2 linked regions of the Homo sapiens genome follow. The protein of the gene in region 1 purifies or fractionates together with the protein of each later gene. This does not show direct contact. Each region holds a gene or a part of one and is shown on either strand. Other genes may lie near its edges. The genes, in order: RREB1 and ARL6.

Region 1 (3,823 bases):
TTTCAGATTTCTAAATATATCGCATGCAATACAGGCAGCGCACCCAGTGGACTTGTAGATGAGACCCAGGCCACGACTACTGTACCTTTCAAGCAGGCTTTCTCAACCTCAGCTCTGCTGACGTATGGGGGTCGTTCTGTGCACTCCAAGATGTGGAACAGCATCTTTGGGGTCTATGCACTAAAGGCCAGTAGCAGCTCCCCGCTGCCGCCCCCCCCCCCACCAGAAACACTTAAAAATGTCTCCAGACAGTGCCAAAAGTCCCCTGGGGGCAAACCCACCAGGTTGAGAACCACTTCTTCAAAGAGTAAGCCCCAAGCTTGTCATCAGCTTTTTCCTTAAAACTCATCCCTCACCCTGATCAACATGGTGAAACCCTGTTACTACTAAAAATACAAAAATTAGCTGGGCGTGGTGGTGTGTGCCTGTAGTCCCACCTGCTCAGGAGACTGAGGCAGGAGAATCGCTTGAACCCTGGAGGTGGAGGTTGCAGACAGGCAAGATTGTGCCACTGCACTCCATCCTGGGCGACAGCAAGACTCTGCCTCACCTAAGTGAACCACATTAAGAAGAATTTGCTAGTCCTGTTAGTCTCCCAGCACTAAAAACAAAAACAAAGTGCTGCATTTCCCCAATCTGAACATAAACTCCTAGGCAAAATTTGACTAAGGTAATGGAGGTGTGCAAAATTCTGGAAAGGAAATCCAGAATGGATACCCACAAAGCTTCCTGAGCTCAAAATATACCACTTTCTTCCGTTTATAGATTTTGACTTTCTGGAACATCTACTTTATCCTTACAACAATCTCATGAGGTAGAAAGGCTACTAAAAAGATACATGTCATCACAGTTCATCAACAGAAATGCTACCAAGAGCAGAAGTGCTTTTTAAAATTTCCTTATACCTTCAAACTCAATTAGGTTTATTTTGAAAAGGATCTGGTCTTATTTAAAAACCACACACCATACACATGGAGATAAATAGGCAGTATATATTTAATGCTGCTAAGTCCTCCTGAGGTCAAACTGACTCTAAAAAGCAGCTGTTCTACAGGGCTAGGCTGGAGTTAGGAGTTCTGGGTTCCAAGTTTGATTCATTAACAGCCCCCGGGTGGACCACCGCGCAGCTGTAAAATGGGTCAACATACCCACCCAACTCCCACAGTGTTCCTCTCAGCATGAACGTGGAATCTTTGCTAAAGGCCTCCACAAAAGCAGGGTGAAATTAACTAAGTCCTAGAAGGTATATCTGAATGAAAAAGAAAAATTTTAAAGTGATTAAACCACCAGAAGTATCAGACACTTTCATAACAATTCTATCCCATAGTCTCTGAAAAGGGGGAAAGAGATGAAATACCAAGCAAACTAGAGAAAAACAAATAGAGCATTTAAAAGCTTTATCTAATTACCCCCACTGAGACGTTTTCTCTTCACTCTGGCTGTCTGACAATGCCTGTGGGGGTTTTCATTCTCTTTCTCCACCCACCCTCATGATGTCTGCAAGCCCTCAGGTGAATCCCTGCAGGAGCAGTCAGGACCCAGTCCCCAGTCCCCGGACTTCACAGAGGTTTTCGAATTCTCTTAGCTTTACTGGCTTGAATCACACTGAACAAACAATCTCCACCCTCTCCCATGCTTTCGTCTGAAGCACCTACTCACAGTCAGCCACCTCTACTGATGGGCAGACTGGCTAACTTCAGTACCCTTGAAGTCCCACCAGAAATAAGATGCACCGATCGCTCCCAGTCTCCTCCTCCCCATCCGCTTCACCCCAACCCGCCACTGCCAACGGCAGAGTGCAATCCCCAGCTACACTCGGCTGCAGTTCAGACCACGCTGAACACCAGAGAACGTGACAAGAGAAATTGGGCGGAGCACAGTCGATGACATTGCCGACAGGACTGCTAACAAAAAAGGAAAAACCCCTCTCCACCTTCCTCATTCTTTTACCTCCGTAGTAATGAAAACAACAGTAGTTTTCTTTTCTGTATTCTGCCTTCTATGGGAGTGGGGGAAATGAAAAATAAGTGATGCATTTCAGAGAGCACACCGTATGCCTCCCTCTGGGTTTCATACGGTGTACCTTTTACCTTTGATATAAGGTACCTGCAACCCTGCAACCCTCACCCCCCTGTGGAAATCACTGTCTGACCCTTGCTCTTTGAAAACTGCCATGGCTACTTCTACTCAAAAATCACTGTCTAAATCAGGAAAGAAAGAGAGAAAAGAAACAGAAAGAAAATACATTTATCAATTTCTTAATTATATTTGGACATAAAAAATATGACTCAACACTGCCTGTTCAATAGGTCAGATGTACAGAAATTAACCTTGAAGCAGGGAAACTTTTGGCTTACAACAGGCTTACCATTCAACCAAGAGATGATAGTTACTCATCATGGCTTCAATTAGATTTCAACCATTTTATCTCAATGAAAAACTTCAAGATACTTGAACATACTTTTGGCAGAAATGTAATGTACATCACACCTATTTTTGTTTTCTGACATTTGGCCAGTCCTTCCAAAGATACTCTGAACCTAATATAATTATTTTTAAAAAGATAGCTATGAACTGGGCGGAATAAACTGCACTAGGGAGGTGGAATGAAATGGAGGAGAAGCCCTATCAAAACCTAATCTAAGGGAATGGTAATCTCAGTAAAGGGGGAAAGAAAGCTATTGTCCCCTTATCAGGACAGACTACATTGCATACTTTCTACTGATACTAAATTGCATTTCTATCTTTGAATACAAATCTGTTTCATGCGGAATAAAAGACATAACTTTATGGATTATGCAGAATTTCCAAAACAAACCATGGAATCAGTTATTAATACTAGAAATAAGAGGGTACTATACACACAAATCCTCAGGAAGGTTCAACCTGAACACACTGGTAATAGTCAAGAAGTCCACCAGACAAGCTGCCATCTGACACCACAAGGCTGGTCATAGAGTACTGAACTTCAATTAAAGACACTTACAAAAGAAAGAGATTATTTAAATATAATAACAAAACCAAAACAAACTTTAACATCCTACCTTCCCAGGTCAAAGGACATAGAAGATTCAGAAATTAACTAAACCTAGTAAATAATGTAAAACAGGGAATGACTCCCTTTCAAAAATGCTTTGGTTAATTTTAGCATCCTTCTGTTTAGCTGCTTAGCAACCCTTATCCTATGACCTTCTAAGCACCACCTACTTTTCAGAAGGATAATGAACAGAAACATCAAAAGAATTCACTTCTGTTTCCAAAGAATATATTTAACCAATTCTTATAGGAGTTAAATTTATATTAATTATGCTGAGCAAAATCCTAAAAGGGTAGCATTTTAAAACTTCATTAACTAGGACATTTCCTTAGCTGAAGGTGATAAATGATGTTAGCAAGCAAGCATAAGATAGCAAGCAAAGACTTCCTAACTGACCTCAGAAGTGGAATAACGCAACAGTTCAAAATTGAAGAGCAAAAACGACCTAAGGCAGCTACACTGTACAGTGCCTGGCACACAGCAGGTAACCAATAAACTGCTGTTGATCAGATGCTGGACTAATACGTGTAGGTTTATTTTCTTCCTTCAACACGCTGTACCTGTGTTGGATACAAATAAGGCCTTGGGAGTCTGCCCGAAGAAATTTAAAAGACCCTTCAATCAAAAGGTCGCTTGTTGGATGATGTAACTAGTTAGGAATGGATGCACTACCTGTACCAGCTCAATAAGACGCATGTTCCCCATCACATAACAAATACTTGTCTGCCATAAGGGCTTAGAGTCTGATTTTCTGATGAGAAATAAAGCAGTATCTAGAAAAACCCA
Region 2 (3,823 bases), on another chromosome or scaffold:
TCTTAAATGAAGTCCTAACAATATTAGAAGCTAATGAATTTATTTTATTACCATATGCAAATCTCCAGAAGGTATAACACATTTGGGTCCTAGTAACTTGACAGCTATTAGTCTGAAGTATAGTCATCCCTCCGAATTGGCGAGGGATTGGTTCCAGGATCCCCTTCAAATACCAAAATCTGCAGATGCTCAAGTCTCTTATATAAAATGGCTTAGTATTTGCTTATAACATATGCAAATTCTTCCATATTCTTTAAATCACCCTAGATTACTTATAATACGTAATACAATGCCTACATATGACCTCATTTATATGCTTTCAATACAGTAGTTTGTGCACGGCAATTTAAGTTTTGCTTTTTGGAACTTTATGGCATTTTTCTCCCCAAATATTTTTGATCTACAATTGGTTTAATCCAGGAATGCAGAACCCAAGGACATGAAGGACCAAGTGTAAATTAGTGAGCACTTGACTTGCATATGCTGAAAAATGGCTTGTTTCAAATTATTCATAGAACAATGGATCAACTGTTAGGCAACACTGTTATTTTTAACTAAATTTAGTCAATAATATTTACTGGCCTATATGCTGAGCATCATACTAGGTCTTGAAAAAATAATATGAATAATAAATAATCCCTTCCCTTGAGGAGTTCACACTTCCACTAGGGAGGCGGCTATGGTGCATAACTTCAAGACATGGTAAGTATGATTAGAGAGATAGAAATGGACAAAGTGCCAGGTGAACAATAAGGACAAAATAACTGGGCAGAACAGTGAAACTTCAGAGGAAAGGACTTTTAGCTGAGTTTTAAAGCAGGAATATGTTAACCTTAAACTGAAGTGAAGTAGGATAGAATGGGGCATTAAAAACAGAGAGAATAGTACATGCAAAGGCCCGAAGTCATGAAGGACCTGAAACATTTGACAAACAATGTTGAGTCTCATTACATATTTTTTAAAATAGGAAATGTTCATAAATTACATGAAAAAAAAAAGCCAAACAACCTAGCCATATAATTCTTTGGATTTCTAATCATTATTATTAGTAAAAACCATCTAGTTAAGCAACATTCACAGATGTACTTACTTATAATAGTGTTCCCAGAGATTTCTGTATCTTCCTTGACCTGACATGTCAAACACTGTAAATGACAAACTACAAAAAGAAGCAAAACATGACTACATTATAAACTAAAGCATAACTTTTACTTAAAATTTTAAATTATTTACAATCAAAGAAATTACCCTTCATATGCAATATTCAACATGTGCCAATTTACAAGTAAAAGTTCTATGAAATAAATGTATTAATATAAACACAATTTTGCAATAAATAACATAAAAAACTTCTTTGCTAGTGAAGTTATCAGAGTTTGTCTAAACTCTAAATTCTGAAAAATAAACCAGCCATAGTGGTTAGAAACACTTTAATACCTATGAGATTCTGAAACAACAAATTACTTTATCTAAGGGTAGGAAGAATGACCAGGTAGACCTAATATTGTTATTTTTCACTAGCAACTTTTTTGTTAAGGGATAAAGTGGATTACCTGGATGATTTGAATTTCTCTATGCTGAATCCTATTGTTGGAAGGATATTTTGAGATTGAGCCTTTAAGAGAAAAGACAAAGTTCAGAAATTTACAATTACCAGAGATGAGTTTTCCTCAAGTTAAAGTATCCAGATTTTCAGTTTCTAAAATCTGTCACTAAGGAGATGATAGGATTTAACAAAGTTATATAATTTTTTCAATAGGATCACTCTGTGTGAATTCTTTATAGAAGTTTAAGGTTTACTAATTATGAATCTGCATAATATTAATTCACATTTGTGGCTTGTGGCATGCTACCAAGGACATAAGCGTTTGTTTTATAAGTGGTTTAATAAGTGTTTTTTTTTTTTTTGAGATAGAGTCTCACTCTGTCACCCAGGCTGGAGAGCAGTGGCGCAATCTCGGCTCACTGCAAGCTCCACCTCCCGGCTTCACACCATTCTCCTGCCTCAGCCTCCCGAGTAGCTGGGACTACAGGCGCCCGCCACCACGCCTGGCTAATTTTTTGTATTTTTAGTGGAGACAGGGTTTCACCGTGTTAGCCAGGATGGTCTCGATCTCCTAACCTTGTGATCTGCCCGCCCTGGGCTCCCAAAGTGCTGGGATTACAGGAGTGAGCCACCGTGCCTGGCATACTTTCTAATCTTTCAACACATACGTGAGTTTGTATATGTTCCAGACTGCCCTCATGTGTAGATGGTTCCTGCCTTTATGGAGTTTACAAGCTAGAAGATGTAAATAGAACACAATTTTGAGCAGAGATAAGTGCAAAAATAAATGTTTTGGGGGTGGGAGGCAACAGAAAGGGGCTGGAAGGTGGCATGGAAGAAAAGTGCTCAGGAATGGTCTCTCTGAGTAGGGGCCATCTGACCCAGGAGTGAATGACAGGAGGGGAAGAACCATGACAAGTTATTGACAAAGAACAGTCCAGTCAGAGAAATCTGTCAGTGCAATGATTCTGAGGAAGGAAGGAACTTGCCACTGAGGAAATGCAGAAAGCCTAAATGTCTCAAGTGTATCGGGTAAGATAAAGAGTGATATGTTGAGGTAAGGGCTTGAAGGCAATGGTAGGGAATTCTGCGTGGAGAAGAGATTGAAAGGGGGCTAGAGTACAGCAGGAGACATGTTGACAAATCCCACTGACAATTAAAATGTATTATACTAACAATCTAACTTGTTAAATGCCTCCTAGCACTTTCATCAGAAAAACTATTCCTCTGTTTGAATAAAAATATATCTACTTTCTGATCCAGATGCCTAGAAATTATTATTGACTCCTCCCTTTTTTTTACATTCTTTATGTAATCATTCTCTAAGCTTTTTGGTTCTATCTCACTAACTTAGTTCAGACCCTTATCATTTCTTGCTTTGAATTACTGTACCAGCCTCCTAATTGCTCTTACTTGCCTTTGCTACCTTGAACAAGTTACTTAATTTTTCTAAGCCTGGTTTTCTCAAATGTGAAATATATTATTATTATCCTTTACTCATAAACTTATCATGATAAGTAAATAAGTTAATGGATGTAAAATACTCAACACAGTAAATGCTCAACAAATGTCTGATATTATTATAATTACATGCTCACTGATTTCAGTCTCTTCCCCAATTCTTCCCATATTGTCACTATAACTTTAAAAAAAACTCCCTTCAGTTCATCTTGTTGCTTTTATAAAAAAACAGTATTAGAGGGGAAAATTTTGCCTCACACTATTACATTCACTCTGGTAGTCTACTTCTGGGAAATTTAAATTCAAGGAAAGACAGAAGCTCAAAATTCACTGGAGCTTGGTCACTTTAATAGCATGGTAATGCACTAGTAGAAAGGCCCTCCAGAGCTGCCCTTGTTTTGCCTTTCTGAAGTTTGTTTACTTAGCTTTTTCCTTTTCCTTCTATCCATTCCAAGATCTGATCTAGTATTTTTCCAAAAATATATTTTTGTTTATGTAAGACAAAATTCATTTCCTGCCACTAAGATTCCTGCCTCATACCTTGGGTTTCCTTCATTTCAGAACAACCTTTGCAATAAGAAGTTTCCTAAGTTTTAATGTTCCCCCAACTTCATTATTTTGATTTTAAGGGCTTTAAATGTGCCAATCATTGTGAAAAAATCATCAGCTACTACTATGAGGAAAAAGACACCAATAACAAAATAGGAAGCTAAAGTTTAAAGAAGTCTCAAAAAATGTATATTAAAATAGCAACCCTGTCTTCACTGAATTATAATTAGAACATTTCCCTAGCGTCCCCACGATCACCTAACTTCT

The links.
Region 2: the proteins of RREB1 (region 1) and ARL6 purify together in Homo sapiens (affinity purification with mass spectrometry; one large-scale study listed by BioGRID and IntAct). This does not show direct contact.

What each region holds. Positions count from the first base shown.
Region 1 is NC_000006.12:7,110,867-7,114,689, reverse strand, and holds part of RREB1 (ras-responsive element-binding protein 1), read right to left. Parts: intron 1-3,823.
Region 2 is NC_000003.12:97,777,951-97,781,773, reverse strand, and holds part of ARL6 (ADP-ribosylation factor-like protein 6), read right to left. Parts: intron 1,616-3,823; coding exon 1,554-1,615; intron 1,160-1,553; coding exon 1,091-1,159; exon of another isoform or gene 1,087-1,090; intron 1-1,086. UniProt on the Homo sapiens protein: Involved in membrane protein trafficking at the base of the ciliary organelle. Mediates recruitment onto plasma membrane of the BBSome complex which would constitute a coat complex required for sorting of specific membrane proteins to the primary cilia.